Regions from separate parts of the Homo sapiens genome. Here all the other regions are reported to be linked to region 2. The links are microRNA targets in miRTarBase. Many come from high-throughput screens and were not tested one by one. Region 2 holds a microRNA gene; each other region holds the end of a gene's coding sequence.

Region 1 (4,119 bases), not on the chromosome of region 2:
TGTTAGACCTAGGGACAGAGTGAAGTTAATTAATTGCCTTTACCCACCTCCCCTGCCATTGTTTAGCCAGCTGAGGAGGCTCACTTCATTATGTTTACAATGCTTTTGTTTTTTTTTAGAGTCAACAAACACTCGGGTCCTATACTTCAGCATCTTTTCAATGTTCTGTCTCATTGGACTAGCTACCTGGCAGGTCTTCTACCTGCGACGCTTCTTCAAGGCCAAGAAATTGATTGAGTAATGAATGAGGCATATTCTCCTCCCACCTTGTACCTCAGCCAGCAGAACATCGCTGGGACGTGCCTGGCCTAAGGCATCCTACCAACAGCACCATCAAGGCACGTTGGAGCTTTCTTGCCAGAACTGATCTCTTTTGGTGTGGGAGGACATGGGGTACCACCTACACCCAACAAGTCAATGAGGGACTTCTTTTTAATTTGGTAGGATTTTGACTGGTTTTGCAACAATAGGTCTATTATTAGAGTCACCTATGACAAAAAATAGGGGTTACCTAGATAATGCCAAAGTCAGCATTTGTCCTGGGTTCCCTTGTGTGATCTGTTTGGACTATGTTTTCTTTTCTTCTCCCACTTGCTCAGCAGCTTGGGCTTCCATTCTAGTTCTTTTACCAAGATTTTTGTGTGACCATGTTGACTTCATTTGGATTGCCCTCTTTCAATTTCCTTGTGAAAACACCCTTAACTTTCTCTTTACCCTTAGCTGAAATGTTTACATAGCTTCTGGTGATATCTTTTCATGATTTTATATCTCTTAAAATGGTGATGGATGTGACACCTCATAAAAGTGAGCTTTGAACTGTAGATAACTCTTAAAGAAAATGTCATTTTAGACAATTAAAATATTTGTGCTCAACTGCTTGAACTTTTTTCGTGTATGTGTATTTAATTCTATGCAATATTATCACATGTGTAGATTCATGTGACCACCATCACAAGAGACAGAACAGTTCTGTCACATGGATCCCTTGCACTGCCCTTTTACAGCCGCAGCCACATCCCTTTCTTATACCCTCACCCCAACCTGTGGCTACCACTGTTCTGTCCTCCATCTCTGTAATTTTGTCATTTCAAGAATGTTGTATGAATGGAATCATACAGAATGTAATCTTACGAGGCTGATCTTTTTTCATTCAGCATAATTCCCTTGAAATCCATCCAAGTTGTTGCATGTATGAATAGTTTCTTCCTTTTTTTCTTTTAAAAATGTTTTATATATTTAGGGGGTATAAGTACAGATTTCTTACATGCATATATTGCATCGTGGTGAAGTGGGGGCAGTTCCTTTTGATTGCTGAGTAGTATTCCATGGTATGGATGTACCACAGTTTGCTTAACCATTCACCCACTAAAGGACATAAGAGTTGTTTTCAGTTTTTTGCCCTAATAAAGCTGCTGTGAACATTCATGTACAGGTTTTTATGTGAACATACATTTTCATTTTCTGGGATAAATGCTCAAAAGGGCAACTGTTGGGTTGTATGGTAAACACATATATTTTTGTAAGAAACTACCCTACTCTTTTTCCAGAGTGGCTCTACTTTTTACATACAGCCACTCATACAATTCAGACAGCAATGTATGATTGATCCAGTTTCTTCACATCCTCACCAGCATTTGGTATTACTACTATTTTTTATCTTAACCATTCACATAGATGTGTGTAATGATACCACATGTGGTTTTAATTTGCATTTCCAATGGCTAATGATGTTGAGTATCTTTTTGTGTGCTAATTTGCCATCTATGTATCCTCTTCGGTGAAATGTCTTCATGTCTTTTGTCTATTTTCTATTTAGGTCATTTGTTCTTTTTACTATTGAGTTTTGAGAGGTTTTTTATATATCCTAGATAAAATTCCTCTGTTAGATATGTGGTTGCTTGAATTTTTAACATAACTTCTACCAAGGAAAAATAAGTAAAATTTCCAACCCTTGCATGGCCAGTCACTTACTTAATTCCTGTCCTTCAGTGTTCCATCTAGAGAATTAAGAGATATGATGTATAAAATAGACATCGAGGGCCATTAAGAGAGTAAATACTTAAAAATACATGTTATGAAAGCAAAGCCAATAATCACTGTAGGAGTATGAGTTGCCTAAGGGCCAAAACTAATGTAAATAAGAGAAAGTGTGGATATAAATGACCATTGTTTATAAACAGTTATGAAAAATGCTGTGACTTGAAATCTTTCCCACATCTCCCAAGAAAGTAGGTAGGAGTTTATCCTTTCCGTAATCTCTTTTTAACCCTGCTGACTATTACAGGGCTTGTTTAATCACAGTGGCAAGAATTACATGTATCTTACAGTAAAGAAACAGAATACTGGAATCGTTAGAGAACCCTGATGTGTTGACCTGGATAAAGTACAAAGGTGGAAGAGGGAATGAGTTATGCTGTTAAAATCTCAGGCTATTCTGTTAATGTTCCTGCTACTATGAACCCAAACTTTTTTTTTCCCCCTTTTGACTCCTTGTGTCTTCCTCTCCTGTGGCATAAAAGTAGTTCTGTCGTTAACTTGTACAACATTGCCATCTGCTGTTGAGAATTGGTAGGTACTGCTTCTGAGAACCTGGCTGCAGATCCTTAGCATAGGCAGCAAATGTTGAGAAAGTCTATCTGTAGTATTACATATACTAAGTTACAGAGGATGCATCCAAGTAGAGAAAATAATATGTGGGTTAAGATACATCCTTAAACTTTTTTTTTTTTGGGGGGGGGGGGACGGAGTCTTGCTGCAACGCCCAGGCTGGAGTGCAATGGCACTATCTCAGCTCGCTGCAACCTTCACCTCCTGGGTTCAAGCAATTCTCCTGCCTCAGCCTCCTGAGTAGCTGGGAATATAGGTGCACACCACCATGCCTGGCTAATTTTTGTATTTTCAGTAGAAGCAGAGTTTCACCATATTGGCCAGGTTGGTCTCGAACTCCTGACCTCAAGTGATCTGCCTGCCTCAGCCTCCCAAAGTGCTGGGATTACACGCGTGAGCCACCACACCCAGCCTCCATCTTTAAACTTTTAAATGTGAAATTTCTATCATGTACCGTTAGCCTAACAAGATTTTCTTTCCTATTTCTGACTGGTGCCTTTCCCCTTTTTAGGAGCAACGAAAGCTACTCTCTTAGTTATGTTCTTGTGATGTGACAAAATGTCAAGAAGATAGGAGAAGAGAATATTTTATTTCGTTGATGCTTTTGTTCCCAAGTGTGACCCTAAACTTAAGCTTTGTAGGAGTTGACATTCTTTCATGTCCCTTCCCTTTACTCATGCCGAAACTATCAACTGGGACATTTTGTGCTTTTGGTTTAAAAGTTAATTGATATTATACTTTGGTTTTATCTAAAAAGTAAATGTATTTGCCTTTGACAAAAGACTGACACAAGAGCAAATAAGCTTTAAAATCGGGTGTTATGTGCTTTCCTCCATTTTTGAGCATATTATCCAAAATGGTCTGTATAATATAAATGAGAATGATGCAGTTTAAGTAAGCCTTGTTATACCATTGTCATGGACCCCTGTCATAAAGCCATTTCTTGGTTTGTTTGGGAAAGAGGCATATGGGATTTATACAGATTCACTTGTAAATGTTGGATTGGGGATTTTTGTGTAAATTTTCTCAAATAAAGGCTAGCAGAAACCATTTTAGGTGTACTGTTACTCTTGAGTACTTCTATGTCTGGATTGGTGATAATTCTTCCATATTTCTCTTTTAAATTATGGCAAATTATACCTGATGAATTAGAGAAAAAATATTGTTATTCTTCAGTTACTGCAGATCGATAGTTTATATGAGCTAGTAAAAGATTATCATATTTTGTATGTAATATATGTAAATTATATATATATATATAATTAAGAATCCTTAATTATGCATCCTCAGACCAAATATGGTTCTGTAAGCTAGGCATTTTATTCTCTTTATCTTCTCTCTTTTGGAAACTGTTACTATTAGGTTCGCACAAAAGTAATTGTGGTTTTTGCAATTAAAATTGCAATTGCATAGAATCACTCCTACAGAGAGCCATCTCCCCTGCCTTTCATTCCTAAAAGACCCCCACCCCCCACCCCCGGTATATGAATCCTCAGGACTCACTTTTTAGGC
Region 2 (4,123 bases):
GCTCGCTTGAGCTTGAGAGGTGAAGGTTGCAGTAAGCTGAGATCACATCACTGCACTCTAGCATGGGTGACAGAGGGAGACCCTATCTCAAAAAAAGATAAATTGCGTAGAAGGGAATAAGAATATAAATGATGGCCAACTTTTCATCAGATAAACATAGGCCAGAAAATAATGGAACCACACAGTTAAAGTGCGGGGGTAGGGGGAACACTGTCAACCTAGAATTTGATATCCAAACAAAATATTCTCCAAGAATGAAAGTAAGAAAAATATTTTCAGGCAAATAAAAACTACCTGAGTTCATTGCTGGCAGATCTACATTATAAGAAATGCTAAGGCATGAGAAAATAAAGCCAAAACTAATGAAAGAGAAAGCAGACAAACAACAGACAAATAACAGAGCCAAAATATGGTTCTTTAAAAATACGAATAAAAACTATATACCTCTACCTGGACGAAGAAAGGAAAAAAGAAGACACAAATTAGCAATATCAAGAATGAAATCAGGGACACCAGTATAGAGCCAATAGACATTTAAAACATAATAAGGCAATATATGAATACTTTATGCCAATAAATTTGTCAATTTGGATAAAATGGAATAATCCTTTGAAAAATAAAAATAACACACAATGAAAAAATGTTACTAGCCTTATACTTAGTAAAGAAATTGAACGTATTATCAAAAATCTTCACACAAAGAAAATTCTAGACTCAGATAGTTTCTTTGTTGATTCTGTCAAACATTTGAGAAAGAAATGACATCAAATATAGACAAACTCTTTCTAAAACACAAGAGAAGAGAACACTGTCTGAATCACTTTTATGAGGCCTATATAAATTTGATACCAAAAAACTAGCAAATATATTACAATAAAAGAAAACTACAGAATATCCCTCATGAACCTAAACAAACTACTAGCAAATCAAATACAAAAATACATGCAAAAGTTCATATTCCATGAAGAAGTAGGTGTATCACAAGAGTGCAATGTTGATTTAACATATTAAATTGTCAATGTAATCCACCATATTAACAAAACGAAAGAGAAGACAAATATGTAATCATTTCATAAGCAGAAACATTATTTCCCTAAGTTCAACTGCCATTTATGATAATGGTGAAATATTGTCCTCTTTTATTATCAAGAACAAGCTAAAAATGTTTACTGTCACCACTTCTGTTCAACATTGTACTGGAGGTCCTAGGCAGTAAAATAAAACAAAATGAAATAATAGGCATAAAGATTGAAAATTAAGAAGTAAAACTCCCTTTGTGTATAAATGACATCATTGTTTGCAAAGAGAATCCTGAGGAATTTATGTAAAAATAGCAAGGTCACAGAATACAAGATCAATCTGAAAAAATCAATTATATTTCGATTTACTACCAGCAAAAAAAAAGTTTAAAAACCAATTTTATTTATAATGATATCTAGAACATTAAATACTTAGAAATAAGGTTAACAAAAGGTATTTAATAACTCTATGCAGAAAACTATGAATTTAGAAGACCTAAATACATGGAGAGGCATTTCATGTTCATAAGTTGAAAAACCCAATGCTTTTATAATATACAGTCTCCTCAGATTGATCTATAGATTCAATGCAATCTGACTGATAATTAGGTCAAGTTTTCAGAGAAACTGACATATTGATTCTGACATTTATATGGAAATACTAAGGTCCTAGGATCTCTAAATTAATACTGACAAGACAGAATATGAGGACTTCCACAACCTGAGTTTGAGGCTCCAGTAGCCAAGCTAATGTACACAAAGCAAGTTTATGCAAATACATGAATAAAACACAACAGGCAGCCTAGACCTAGACTCACACCTATAAGGTTACTTAATGACTGACAAAGCCACCGAAGCTCCAATGGGAAAAGTAAGCGCTTTTCTAGAAATGATGCTGGAAAAATAGATATCCATATGGGGAAGAAAATGAATCTCAATTCCTATCTCAACTCATGCACAAAATTAATTCAATATGGATGATAGACCTAAACATAATACAGCTAAAATTATAGTAGTCCCCCTTTAACCACAGTTTTGCTTTCCATGGTTTCAGTTACCCTCAGCCAACCAAAGGGACATGTGGCTCATCATCCACTCACATCCAAAAAACTAAAAGAGAAATTTTAGAAATAAATAATTCATCCCTTTTTAAAAAAATTTTTTTGAGACAGAATCTCACTCTGTCACCCAGGCTGGAGTGCAATGGCGCAGTCTTGGCTCACTGCAGCCTTGGTCTCTCAGGCTCAAGCAATCCTCCAACCTCAGCCCCCTGAGTATCTGGGACTATAGACATGCACCACCACGCCTGGTTAATTTTTGTATTTTTTGTAAAGATAGGAGTTCGCCATGTTGCCCAGGCTGGTCTTGAACTCCCGGGCTCAAGTGGTCTACTCACATCAGCCTCCCAAAGTGCTGGGATTACTGGTGTGAGCCACTGCACCTGGCCAACTCATACGTTTTAAATTGTGTGCTGTTCTGAGTAGCATGATGAAATCTCAGGCCATCTGTCCCGTCCCTCCTAGGATGTGAATCATCCCTTTGTCTCGTGGATCTACACTGTAGATGCTACCTGCCTATGGGTCATTTAGTAGCCATCTGGGTTATCAGATCAACTGCCGTGACATCACAGTGCTGATGTTCAAGTAACCCTTATTTTAGTTCGTAATGGCCCCAGTGTGCAAGAATAGTGGTGCTGGCATATCATTATAATTGTCTGTTTTATTATAATTTGCTGTAATCTCTTCCTGTGCCTAATTTATAAATTAAACTTTATAATAATATAATATTATATATAATATAATATAATTTATAAATTAAACTTTATAATAATACATATAGGAAAACAACACAGTATATATACAGTTCTTTAGTATCCATGGTTTCAGGTATCCACTGGGGGGTCTTGGAATATGTCCCCAGCAGATAAGCAGGGTATACTATATAGAACTGTCAGGAGAAAAATATTTGAAACCTGAGAATAGGCAAAGATTTCATAGGTCACAATTATAATGATATGCCAGCATCACTTGTCCATGACAAGGTGCTTTACAGAGGCCATTGTCTCCTTTTAGCTAGGCAGTGAAAAGCACATTACAAGTAAAGAAAACAGCAGTTTTCTTAGACTGTTTACTTTGCAATAAAGGAATACCTGAAACTGGGTAATTTATAAAGAACAGGGGTTTATTTGGCTCATGCTTCTGCAGCCTATACAGGAAGCATAGGGCCTCAGAAGCTTCCAATCATGGCAGCAGGTGAAGGGGAGCCAGTATATCACGTAGTGAGAGAGGGAGCAAGAGAGAGAAGGAAGTCTCAGGCTCTTTTAAATAACCAGATCTTGGGCGAATTGGTAGAGCAAGAACTCCCTCATTACTGCAAGGATGGCACCAGGCCACTCAAGAGGGATCCACCCCTGTGATGCAAACACCTCCCACTAGGCCCACCTCCAACATTGGGGTTGCCATTCCAACGTGAGATTTGTAGGGCACAAGTATCCAAACTATATCAATGTCCTCTGAGTGTGTGTGTGTGCACGCGTGAACTCATGGGGTTTCTTATTCTCATAAATTCTGGCAGTCCTCTATTAATTACTTACTTCAGACACAAATTATAACCAGATATGGGACAATATAGTTACTAGGGAAAAAAGTTTACTTTCTAAAAAGAATTGGCATATTCTTTGGTTAATTAAGAGGAGAAAGTATCCAGAACCCTTTTCCAGTTCTCTTTGCAGAAGCGTATAATTGCTTTAAGGGTCTTTCTGGCGAAAAGTGATTAGAGGATACATTCCGCCAAGCACCAGGCTGCTCCCTCGGCATGTCCCCCACTTCTGCTGATGCACTAACGTGTCTCAAATCAGTTGCCAATTGGCAGGTGAATCCTATAAAACTGCAAACCTCTGGTGGAGAAACATTATATAAAAGGAATGTAATTGCAGGAAGCTTTCCACCTGCCCCATTCTAGAGGCATCGCAAAGCAGATTTTGTCTAAAGGCTTACCAGAAAGTGAGAGGGCTCCAAAAGGACTTAGAAGGCCCATCAAGCACAACCTGGCATTGTTCATCCCTAATAATTATATGTGCAGAGTTTTATAGTAGCTCTTCTCCT
Region 3 (4,123 bases), not on the chromosome of region 2:
TAGTCCAAATCTTTTTTTCAAAAAGAAGTCCTTCAGGCCAAGTAGCAAAGAAAGTCTCCTTCAGGGCACAGACACCTCCTAAGAATAGTCTCCCTTCTAGAGACCCCAGGCAGGGGGAGTCCCAAAGCAATTTTCATAACCCTGAGCCCTTACCTGCCCTTTTGCCCACTGCTTTCAAAGTGCCCAGGGACTGCATCGGCTGTGTGCAAAGCCAGTTCTTAAGAGAAGGTGCCCAGGCGGAGACTCTGTCCTCCCTATAAAAAGCAAAATCATCACAAAAAGACTAAAGGAACAGGCATTCACCATCCGCTCTCAGTGGGTGAACATATCTACGCTCTAAACGCTCAGTACAAAGGCCCAGAAGGAAAGGTGGCCCCCAAAACAGCACTAACTATAGCCTCACTTCTGAGACAGCAGTACTGGTTGCACACACACAGGAGTTTCATTTAAGACCTACATTCAATTAATATTTGCTGAACATTAAATGAATAACACTTAATGGGCTCCTTATTCATGGGAGACAGACACATTCCCCAAGCCCTAGACAGCAGTCTCAGGAAACTGCCTCCACCAACTGTTCGCCAGAACTAGGGGGTCTGACTTTTCACTTTGCTCCCTCTAGAGCCACAGAATGGCAGAGAAACAAACAGCCTGGGTAAGCTCTCAGAATGAATCATCACTGCAACTCATCAGAGCTGCTGAAACATGCTACCTGTTTTGTTTTTCTTTTGTAGTTCCTACCCAAGACAGATCAATTGGAATGGAAAACTCTGAGTGCTACCAGAGGTAAAACTGGGTGAAGAAGGCAAGAGAAGACTTTCAGCCTCTTGATCACCAGCACGACCATACTGTTTCAGAAAGCTGGGTGGTGGTGGAGGCGCTCTCTCAATGGCTATTCAAGTCTTCTCCACTAAAACTTGGTTGGGTAGAGGAAATTAAATTGAGTCCTGGTACCTGGTCAAAATCATTAGAAGTTTACCTGGCTTCTCAAGTTATCTTCTTCCCTGGTTCAGACTGTTGGTAAGAGCTGTCCAGATACCCAGATGGGAAGGAAGGAGACAGCCGCGCGCTTCACTCCATTTGTCACCTCATGCATGGACCATACTCTGGGTTTGAGATCATTCTTCATTGAAGTTTGTAAAAATAGGTTGAAATTGTAAAGCTCCATGATCATTGCTATATGTAGATATATTTCAATTTAAGCAAAACAAGCTGCAAGTTATTCCCTGGCATGCTCAAAGGATTTTCGTGCTTTTCACTTAATAGTCCAAAGTCTCTTAAATTCCTGCTGCAGACATCAATAGCTTATCTATATTCTCAAACACCAAAAGGAAAAGTTGAATCTTGCTCTCTTTGGTATACTAATGTAGTGGTATGCTAAGCTGGCTCATACCAACTTAGAAAAGCTGATTGTAAAATTTTCATTTTGACAGCTGGTTATTAAATGCAGCCATTATTAAAAATCAAATCATACAAACTTATAATTAAATCAATTACATTTAAAACAAAGGTAATAAATATTCAAAGCATATCACTTCCTAATTTGATCTTGATGCTCTTGAGGTAATTTACGTCCATGGTACCTGTGTGGTGGAATTACTATATATGATGGTGTGCTACTGTGCACCTTGTCTCAACTCCACTCTTCGTGATAGCATGTTGGTAGCTTGAAATCAGCCTGGTGGGAGTATTACCATGGACACTGGCAAAAGCTACAGATCCCGGAGAGCCAGTGGTTAAACATTTACCAGCATACCACTGCTAGTAATCAAGGCTAACTGGTCCAGAAATCGCCCAGGAGAATGAAATGGATGTTCCATTTTTTTCTACTGACATTGACTAGCATATAAAAGGTATAGAAACAGCACTAAGACTTTCTGAAAATACCTAATGAAAATTTTACATCTTTTTTTGTTTTTGTTTTTGTTTTTGAGACAGAGTCTCACTCTGTTGCCAGGCTGGAATGCAGTGGCGTCATCTCGGCTCACTGCAACCTCCGCCTCCCAGTTTCAAGCGATTCTCCTGCCTCAGCCTCCCAAGTAGCTGTGACTACAGGCGCATGCCATCACGCACAGCTAATTTTTTGTATTTTTAGTAGAGACGGGATTTCACCGTGTTAGCCAGGATGGTCTTGATCTCCTGACCTCATGATCTGCCCGTCTCGGCCTCCCAAAGTGCTGGGATTACAGGCGTGAGCCACTGCACCCAGCCAAAAATTTTACATCTTTTATAGAGGGAAAAAAACTCTTTATACCATGGCAAGGCCTTTTCTTTCACAAAAAGCTGGGCCTACTGAACAATTCAAGCTGTGCAGTAGTAGACTGAAAGCAGGATTTGTTGAGGAGTTACAGCTCCTGTCCAGAGCAAATCCTGTAGTGATACAAGGAGAATGTAAACTTGCCAGCTTAGACAGGGATCAGTCCTGAGACTGCTGGCAGTAGCAAATGGCTATTAGAGTAACTGTATAATGGTTTTGCCTGCACTTTCTCTATGTATATACAAATGTACATGTATAAATATAAAAATTAAGTGATCATGGTTCTTGGTAACCTGTCCCAAGTGCTGTGATTCACACGCCTGACACTAAAAGGTTCTTCCTGGTCCAGTCAGCCAGCTGTGACCACCAGCAGCACAGCTGAGTGCTGAGAATCTGGCTGGAAAGAGAAACGTGGCTCAAGTGCTGGCTCACCTTCTAGCTGTGTGGCCCTGGGCAGGTTACTGAGGCTCTTCCAACCTCACTTTTCACATGTAAAATGGCATTTCTAAAAGTACCTACCCTACCTCAAAGGAATTCTGAAAAAAGTAAGTGAATTTGTATAAAGCAAAGCACTCACAATATGCCTGACACACAAACTGCTTAATAAATGTTAGTAATTTTTAAAACCTCCTCATAAGCGGCTTAGAAATTATTCATGTTTGGTACATATTTATTGCAAGTCAAGCAGATCCAACTTTTTTGAAAGCTGGTGGTCTAGGAGTATAGTTTTAATTATATTTGTAAATACTCAAAAGTATTAGATGCCAGTCTAATTTAAATGCAGTCTGACTGTAGCGAGTAACTGACCTGGGCAATGAAAAAGCAGTTGTATTTTTCTTGTGGTTTTTCAAGAAAATATCCTTTTTATACAGATTTAGAAAGAAGAATCAATGGCTATATCGAAGTTGATTGTGACTAATTTGTTAATACAGAAAACAACATTAACACAAATCTAAGAGTACCTTTCCTAAAATAAAATATTTAAACTTATTAAGTGTGTTATCCATTATGAAGAACAATTGATCCTCTTGCATACACTCAGAAACAAATGGTCTGATGTTCCCCAGAGGCAGGTCTCTCTCATACTAATAAGTTAATGTGGCTTATATTTTAGAAGAAAGAAAACTGTCTCACAAGGGAAACTCTGAATTTTTTTAAAAAAAGATAAATAAATAAATAAATAAATAACCTCTCATAGCAGGGCTAAGTGCCACTATTCCCTATTACATAAAATCAGAATAAGGAATAAGGAAAAGGCAGGTCGATTCTTACACCACACGCTTCTCAGTTACACAAGTAGGACTTTCTTCCTCATCTTCCTTTCAGGAATTTGGACATTTCAGAATCCTGTGGAATCACCCTGTTCCCAGATTTTCCTCTGCTACTTGTATATGGAAATCTAACCCATCAGGCACATCGGATTCACTAAAAGAAGACACAGTGACATAGAGTTCTTTTAGAGTGAATTTCGTTTATTCAGTCAAAAAGGATTTGTTAAGCACCTGCTATGTTCAAGGCACTAATCTAGGTACAGACATACAGTGGTGACTGAGACAGAAGTCCCTGCCTCACAAGGATTATACCGCAGGTGAAGACATACAGACAGCAAACAAATACTACACGTAACATGCCACAGGGTGAGGGGTAATGTAGCACCATAGAGAAACATACATACAGGGAATATGGAATAGGATATGGGAATGCCACAGGGTGAGGGGTAATGTAGCACCATAAAGAAACATACAGGGAGTATGGAATGGGAATAGGGAATGTCAAGAGATGCTCTAGGGCCAGGCACAGTGGCTCACACCTGTAATCCCAACACTTTGGGAGGCTGAGGCAGGCGGATCACCTGAGATCAGGAGT
Region 4 (4,115 bases), not on the chromosome of region 2:
TAAGGGAAATGTGTGTGGTTTATATTGTAGATACATGCACACACAGCAGGATAAATTTTCATTTTAATGCTCATTAAGAATTTAATTGTACTTAATATATTTTGCAGTTATAAAGGAAATAGAAAAATAAAGTCTATCCCATGTGAAATGACTCTCACTGGTATTGTTTTGCCCATAAGAACTTCTGTCTTGTTTCAGTGAAGCAGGGAACAATCACTAATACAACATTTGTATCTCATTTCAGGATGATGATGATGATCCTTTTATGAACACTAGTTCTTTAAGAAGAAATAGAAGATAATATATTTAATGGCACTGAGAAACATGCAAGATACAGGAAAAATGAAAATGTTACAAGCTAAGAGTTTACAGTTTAAGATTTTAAGTATTGTTTCCTGAGCATAACTCCATAAGTAAGAAATTTCTAGTTCACAGACATACAATAGCATTGATTCACCTTGTTTTTTTAACCTGGTTGTTGTAGTAAGAGCTTTGTTTCAATATCACTCTTGAGTAAAGATTAAAATAAAGCTACCATTTTACATTTCTATTTCATAATGAAAAACTATGTCAGTATTTTAATATGGTTACATTTAGCCAAAGTTGAGGGAAAGAGCTTATAAAATTTAACTTCTTCATAATTTTAGTAATTTCCTAGAGGTTCTGGGTTTTCTGAAAGTAAAACAATTTATGCGAACCTATGTCTAAATTCACTGTTTGTTACTATGTATGTTTTTTTCCAATGCTTCTTATAAGACTAAATGATTAGAAGTACCTAATAGTTTGAACAGATATGTTTTTATTTAAAAGAGTAGAATAACCTTTCAGAATTACTGAGTTTTTTATTCCAGTTGTAGCAAAGATTTCAAAAGATTGTGTTCCCATTAAGTGGTAGTAATTTCCTTTATTATTCTGTATCCTTAATGGTGTTCTCTCTCTCTCTCTCTCTCTCTCTCTCTCCCTCTCCCCCCCGTTCCCCACTCTTCCTTTCTCCTTTGCTTTTTCTTCTCTTTCATACATATATGCGTGCCTAGTTCTAGGAGGAAACGGGTTAAAAATTGTTTTAAACTACATCTTGAAAATATTGAAGAATTTGTTTTAGGTAGAGTGGTCAGTTGAACCTTACAGTAAAGTATAGAAATATATTTAATGTGGAATGTCAATGCCAGGATTTCTCATTAACAATATTTTATCTCAACTTTGGTTCCTGTGATACATTTCTGAATGGGCAATTCCAGAAATCTTAGTAGCCCATGTTAAGCTTCTATTTTTTACTTGTTTTCGGGGAGAAATAAGAATTAGACATCTTCAGATTTAAGTTAAATAATCCCATTCTTTATAATCCTCTGTAAAAAGATCCCTGAGATTATTCCTTCTTCTAGTTTTATGCGACAGCTTTACTTTAAAATTCAAGTTATACATCTTGGGAGTACAATGGCCCGACATTTCTTCATAGGTAGAAACAAATACTTGACTCAGTGATACTCATGACCATTAGAATAGTCATACCTGGAATGTGTCAAATTATAAGAGACAGACACTTGGTTAGTGGCTGCCTCATATAGCACTTTTGAAGAGGCCTAAGTCAAAACTTGCAATATAACATTCTATTGACTTTCTTAAAAATATTTTTTCTGTACCTAACTTGAGCATAAGGGTTATTTGAGCAAGTAACATTAACTCAGTGGAAGGCATTGTCCTGTGAAATATTCTTAGGCAGATCTGCCCACATCTTTATTGAACTTGAAATCTAATATTTCTAGTATTTGAACAAAGCAGAAGGTTAAGTCAGGGAAGAGCAGTGCTGTCCATGATGTAATGGAAGCTACCAGGGGAGGCAGTGTCTGGATGATGCTGTGCTACCTACCCCTGCACAAGCCATGCTGGCTCAGTCTGAGCTGTGGGCCACATCAGCTAGTGGCTCTTCTCATGCATCAGTTAGGTGGGTCTGGGTGAGAGTTATAGTGAGGGAATGGTCACTAAAGTATCCTGACAAGTTCCTAGGAAAAAAGGAATAAAGTTTTTTTCCTTAAAAAAAAAAAAATTGCTCTTGGCTGTGAAAAGAGGTACTAAATGCGATTCAGTTCACCGCTAAGGAAAGTGATGACATAGCAGTTACAGAGGGTGATAAATCTCTCCAGCTAATTCAGGTCATTTTGTGAATACTATGTATCAAGCCCTGAAAATATGGTAAATAAAACGTGACAGGGAAACCTTTTTTTGATTGAATATTGTTACATAGTTAAATGTGCTATATATCCTTAATATTTTATATTGATCCTGCAAAATCTGTTGGTTTTAGGGGAGTTTTGTTTTTTGTTTCTAACAATTTTCAGACCTGTTGGTATAGGAATGTAGAAGTCTTTCAGATGATTTGAAAGCAGCTGCATTTGCTCTTGGAGGCTTTGGGAGAGCAGGAATGAAAACATTCAGAGGAAGACATCTGTAGGGAATTCTTCTGTTACTTACCAAAGAATAAGTGTCTTTCTGGTGTTTTATTTCCTATCATAAAAATACAACAGTGCATTTACAAGGTTAAAGATTCCTCGAAGTTCTAGGAAATTCTTGAAAATATAAGTGGTGCTTAGAAAATTCAAGCATTTAGGAATGTGACCTTTAATTCAGGTATGTAAAAGACTTTTTTCCCAAACTTTTAAAAGTAGGAAATACAATAAATACAGAAAAGTCATATGGTTGAATAAATAATTATAAATTGAGCACTGATGGAATCCCTCTACAGGTCAAGAAATAGCGCAGTGTCCTGGATGCCCATTATATTGTTTTCTCCTTTCTGGGTAACAAGCCCTAACTTCTGTAATTTAAAAGCTCCTACTTTTGCCACAAGGTGGTGCTTCTGCCATTAGACGCAGTTAGGAGGATGCAACTGCAAATCTAAAATTACGAAGTTAGTGTAGTTGCAATAAACTTAGAACATATGCATTAATACTAAACCTATGCAGTAATACCATAATTAGCCTTCTAATCATGTAATTTGCTTTACTTAGGTATTTCATTTGGTTCAGCCTGTTATGGAATTTACCAGCTTGATAAATTTGCCTATAAAGTTTTATAAAGAAAAGGAATATTTTGTTTTCATAAAGAGGAAAATCCATTCTTAGAAAAAAACTGAGTAAAAAAGTATCTCAATGGGCTGGGTGCAGTGGCTCATGCCTTTAATCCCAGCACTTTGGGAGGCCGAGGAGGGGGTTCACCTGAGGTCAGGAGTTTGAGACCAGCCTGGCCAACATGGTGAAACCTCGTCTCTACTAAAAATACAAAAGATTAGCTGGGCATGGTGGTGTGTGCCTGTAATCTTAGCTACTCAGGAGGCTGAGGCAGGAGAATCGCTTGAACCCAGGAGGCAGAGGTTGCAGTGAGCCGAGATTGTGCCATTGCACTGCAGCCTGGGCAACAAGAGTGAAACTCAATCTCAAAAAAAAAAAAAGTATCTAAATGTAAAATATCTTTTTTGGAAATATAGAATTTAAAAGCGACTTTCCCCCAAAGAAATCTGATGTCCTTTTTGTATCTGTCATAAATTTAATTCATAGTATTTTGGGTTTTTTTTGTTTTTTTTTTTTGAGACGGAGTCTCGCACTCTTGCCCAGGCTGGAGGGCAGGGGCACCATTTCGGCTCACTGCAAGCTCCACGCCATTCTCCTGCCTCAGCCTCCCAAGTAGCTGGGACTACAGGCGCCCACCACCACGCCTGGCTAATTTTTTTTTTTTTTTTTTTGTATTTTTAGTAGAGACAGGGTTTTTCTGTGTTAGCCAGGATGGTCTCGATCTCCTGACCTTGTGATCCACCCACCTCAGCCTCCCAAAGTGCTGGGATTACAGGCCTGAGCCACCACGCCCAGCCTATTTTGTGTTTTTTTAAAGCTAACTACCATTAAGATCATTATAGAAGTTTGGTATAATGAAGATTTGGGTTTTTCAGTCCAATGAGTTTCCATATTCTTGAATGAAAAAGATCCACATTTCATCATTTGCCTGTTTCATTTTCTTTTAGTACTTTTGAACTTAGTTTGGTCAGAAAATACTAGAATTTTAGTTTGATCTAAAGAACCAGCTTATATAACTTGCTGTTGCCATGTACATTTGTATGTCTTTGC
Region 5 (4,123 bases), not on the chromosome of region 2:
CTCAGCCTCCCAAGTAGCTGGGACTACAGGTGCCTGCCACCACGCCCAGCTAATTTTTTGTATTATTAGTAGAGATGGGATTTCACCGTGTTAGCCAGGAAGGTCTCGATCTCCTGACGTCGTGATCTGCCCGCCTCGGCCTCCCAAAGTGCTGGGATTACAGGCGTGAGCCACCGCGCCCGGCCAATTTGAATGACTTTTGTAACAACTCAGATCTCAAGTTTGTTACTGATTTCTCTTTTTTTTTCTTTTAAGGAATGTGTTTACTGTGAAAACAAGGAAAAAGGTAATATTTGCATACCATATGAGGAAGATATTCCTTCTCTGGGACTCAGCGAAGTGTCGGACACCAAAGAAGACGAAAATGGATCCCCCTTGAATCACAGGATCGAAGAGCAGACGTAACCCCTGCCCCACCTCAGCCCGGCAGCCAGCGAGGTACACCAGGTGGTGCTTGGAAGAGATGAAAGATCTTCATGGCTGTTTCCACTGAAATGGACACATATGCTCATGTTGCTTTTTTTGTTTTAGAAAAAAAAACAACATAGTTTTCTGAAGGGGCGACTTAAAACTGTGGAGAGTGGGGAGAGTTCGGAAAGAAATATGTTTTTATATATAAAATATATATGTGGAGTTTTGTGGGATGGGGAAGAGATTTTAGTTGTTATTTAACTTGAGAAAGACTAAGCGCCTCTTAGTGTCAGGGAAGTTGCCTCAGTGCTCCCAGAAGTCCTGTGACTGTGACGAGACCTCTGTCTGCTGCACCAGCTGGGGACTCTGGCTTCCAGAGCTTTCCCAGGGTGTTTGGATCAGATCAAATTTTGTCCTCTCTTGGGGACTGCTTTTTATCTGAATTATCATTTAGTCAAGGTAGAGTGTTTTTTTATACATACCAAATGGAGATAGCAGCCTCTCCTAGTTTTATTTCAAAACGTTTCACATTAAATGGTGTGAAGCGTTGTTTGGCAAACCAACAGCTTTGGCTTCTGGTGTGGTCAATATTTCAGTCTGACATAGGTTTTGTTTGTAGTGAACAAAGTTGAAACATTTGCTCTGGACTAAAGAAGCCTAGTGGTTTGTGTGGCCAACTCCATCGGATGAATGCACACGCAGACAGACCCTCTGTATATTTCTGCATTATTCTTGTCTCCTTTTCAGACCATGATGGCCAATATGGAGATTAAAATATGTCATCAGTCATCTCTTTATGGTGACTTCCCTTTGCAAACCAGGCTGTGACCAACACATGTGAGACCCAGTCCTGTTTGGTTTTCTTCCGTTGGAACCACCCAGACATCTGCTTCCACCCAGCCAAGCCCACATCACATCTCCTGGCCGAGAGCAGCCACTGCCACTCAGTCTGACAGCTTGCGACTGCATCTGTATTTTCAGGGGTGCAGTGAGCTCACCTCTCCCACTGCACCCTGGGTTGGGTGCACAGCCCTCATTCTTTTCATGAGCCCGACCTCTCTCGGAGCAGCTTCAGGCCTCTGCCAGTGTCCCCAGCACTTTTAGGTCATTTGGACACTTGGGGAAAAGTGAGGCCAGTCTGCCCGGCTTTTTACAAAACCTCATGTTGCATTGTATATTCCAAAGATGGTTCAGAAAATTTAATATTGGTCCCTGGTGGAAATTCAAAGTTATCACTGAAGAACAGTTGACTTAAAATTGGACCAAGACTATGAGGCTTAAAAGGGACCAGGGTTTTCTTTTTTTTTTTTTTTTTTTTTTTTTTTTAGATGGAGTTTCTTTTTGCCCAGGCTGGAGTGCAGTGGCGCCATCTTGGCTCACTGCAACCTCTGCCTCCCAGGTTCAAGCGATTCTCCTGCCTCAGCCTCCTGAGTAGCTGGGACCACAGGCGACTGCCACCACACCCAGCTAATTTTTTGTATTTTTAGTAGAGACAGGGTTTCACCATGTTGGCCAGGCTGGTCTCGAACTCCTGACCTCAAGCGATCCACCCACCTCGGCCTCCCAAAGTGCTGGGATTACAGGCGTGAGCCACCACGCCCAACTGGGACCAGGGTTTTCTGTTTTTTGATGGAGGTGAAATCTCTTTGTAATCCACTAGGTTTTCATCGTAAAACCATCTTATGCCTGACTATTAAACCTATTCTTCATAAACACAAGAACACTTTAATTTTTCGTTAATTTACAAAGTAACATCAGCTGCCTATGCCTATGATAAGGTAGCAGTCTGCATTCTTATGGCCATTAGATGTTACAAACTCCTTGCCTCTAAAGTCAGATCATGAAGGGATAGGTGTTCATCTAAGGTTACAGTTATGTTACCGAAACACAAAACTGCCAAAATCTTACTCTGCTGTTATGAATGTTTACCATCAGCATTATTTTATCATTTAATATGTGCTCACTGATTGTTAACTGTAGCTTCAGCGCGTGCCAAGCAGTTGACTTAATAGGATCATCTTGTGAATTTGTTTACGTGATGCCAAGCATCAAGTCATGTTTTCTTTAGTGTGTGTGCTTACACAGGTGTTAAACAGTTTTTCTCTATTTTAAACTGAGCCTTCTTTTTAATATATTCCCGAAGAGATATGTAAATAAGCTCTCAGAGTTTCTGTGATGATTTGTTGAGCCTTGCTGGACAAGTGGTTTGTTTGTGTGCAAACCAAACTTTCTTTACCCAGTGCAATAGATTTGTTTGACTGCTTGTGTCTTTTTATGACCTGTTTGCCTTTTAGAAAATTGGTAAATAAAGCAAGTATATTTTTATTTTTACTTGTATGTATTTTTCACATAGCACAAAGGAAAACCTGAATAGAGAGCAAAGATTATTTAAAAAAAATTTTTTTAAAGAACTCCAGGAATTCTGCATTAAAGAATCTTACATCCCAAAGGCCTCCTGGCGGTCAGCTCCCTTATAGCGTTTGCTTCTTGCTGGCTCCCTTTCTTCCTGTGCGTGTCACACACACACCCTCCTTCAGGCTGCAGGAGTGAACTCACGTAATGCAAACCTAATCGTGTCATGCCCCACAGTCTTTTCACTTTTAGTTGGAGGGGTGCAGCTGTCTGGCTCAGCCCCAGAGTGCCCCCAGCTCTGCCTCCACGCACCTCTGTCTTCCCTGCATCCCTGCCCTGGGTTACCTGGCCTTTCCAGGCTGGCTGCCTGTCTTCTGGTCATCGGGCTAGGTAGGGCTAAAGGTGGGGCGGTCAGGAGGCTCCACCAGGAAGGTCACATGTCTCCATTGCGAATGATATGGGCAGGGCGGCATAGTCCCCTGACCCCAGCCCTTCTTTCACAGTGATGAATGAAGCCTTGTGAGGCCAAAACTGTGGAAGCCCGAAGAGTTGCTCCCCATCCCTCCCACTCTTCAAACCATGACCCTGGGGGTGGGAGCAGAGAGCTGAATGGATCCTGAACCCAATGCCCAGCCTCTGAGAAGCTCCCTGAGCAGAAGGGAGGGGCTCTCCTCTGCCTGCTAGCCTGGCTGCCTAACGCCAAGTGCTGATGGGATAAAAGGCAAAGTCCTCCCTAGCGAGCACAGAGGCCTCTGCAAACTGCTCTAAATGGCCAGATATGGTTGTTTCACTGAACCTGAGTGCTTTTGGAAGACTCTTAATTGTATTTTTATTTACCATATAACCCCAAGGGATTTATTTCCAAACCAAACGGAGATTCTCTGAGTCTCCTGGGCAGATTGCCCACAAGGGGCCTGGACAGTCTACAGGCCGCAGCTGCCTTTGTTCCCCCAGGGATTTATGGCCTGCCACCCCCACTGCTAACTGGTATCCCCGCAGCAACCACCACCCTGCCCAGCCTCTGCTGGCCTCTGTTCCTGGCTCTAGGGGGATCAAAGGACTCAAATGCTCAGGAAGTCCATACTCAGGCAAACTTTGAAGGCAGGACTGGCCCAAGGGACAAATGGCAGGAAGTGTTGGCTAGGGGAGGCTGCTGTGAAGGAGGGAGGGAGGGCTTGGTGACCTCAAGATAGGCCAGGCTTCTGGGACAAAAAGGCCATGCCAGCTGGCCAGTGCACCGCTAAAGGGAATTGAAGCTGACCTTGCAGAGGGGACCTTGGGCAACTTCCAGTCCAACCAAGAAGGATTTTGCTGATGTACAGCCTTCTCTACTTAAGCTCTTTTCCCTGTAGGATCCTTG

Evidence for each region. The annotated mature microRNA hsa-miR-3929 reads GAGGCUGAUGUGAGUAGACCACU and lies in region 2 at 2,402-2,424, opposite strand. An mRNA with a match to its seed (bases 2 to 7 or 8) in the 3' UTR can be bound and repressed. Matches are read on the target gene's strand: a 7mer-m8 pairs with bases 2 to 8, a 7mer-A1 pairs with bases 2 to 7 and ends in A, and an 8mer does both.
Region 1: the mRNA of TMED10 is a reported target of hsa-miR-3929. Seed matches in the 3' UTR shown: 7mer-m8 at 2,836-2,842 and 7mer-m8 at 2,971-2,977.
Region 3: the mRNA of SLC60A1 is a reported target of hsa-miR-3929. Seed matches in the 3' UTR shown: 7mer-m8 at 820-826, 7mer-m8 at 1,674-1,680 and 7mer-m8 at 2,028-2,034.
Region 4: the mRNA of MRE11 is a reported target of hsa-miR-3929. Seed matches in the 3' UTR shown: 7mer-m8 at 3,020-3,026, 7mer-m8 at 3,666-3,672, 7mer-m8 at 3,813-3,819 and 7mer-A1 at 3,858-3,864.
Region 5: the mRNA of PER2 is a reported target of hsa-miR-3929. Seed matches in the 3' UTR shown: 7mer-m8 at 1,831-1,837.

The regions. Positions count from the first base shown.
Region 1 is chr14:75,131,007-75,135,125 of GRCh38, reverse strand. It overlaps TMED10 (transmembrane p24 trafficking protein 10), which reads left to right. Exons shown (of 5, transcript NM_006827.6): 5 at 120-3,657. The coding sequence ends at 241. Among named protein-coding and RNA genes, the nearest start is that of NEK9, 6.0 kb to the right of the region's middle.
Region 2 is chr18:35,931,687-35,935,809 of GRCh38, forward strand. It overlaps MIR3929 (microRNA 3929), which reads right to left and starts at 2,456; the gene lies at 2,402-2,456.
Region 3 is chr1:205,599,672-205,603,794 of GRCh38, forward strand. SLC60A1 (solute carrier family 60 member 1) reads left to right here. Exons shown (of 10, transcript NM_181644.5): 10 at 735-3,247. The coding sequence ends at 790. Among named protein-coding and RNA genes, the nearest start is that of ELK4, 30 kb to the right of the region's middle. RefSeq lists an enhancer at 294-1,493.
Region 4 is chr11:94,416,311-94,420,425 of GRCh38, reverse strand. MRE11 (MRE11 double strand break repair nuclease) reads left to right here. Exons shown (of 20, transcript NM_005591.4): 20 at 245-4,115. The coding sequence ends at 301. Among named protein-coding and RNA genes, the nearest start is that of GPR83, 17 kb to the right of the region's middle.
Region 5 is chr2:238,242,657-238,246,779 of GRCh38, reverse strand. PER2 (period circadian regulator 2) reads left to right here. Exons shown (of 23, transcript NM_022817.3): 23 at 256-2,736. The coding sequence ends at 405. Among named protein-coding and RNA genes, the nearest start is that of HES6, 4.7 kb to the right of the region's middle. RefSeq lists an enhancer at 1-632.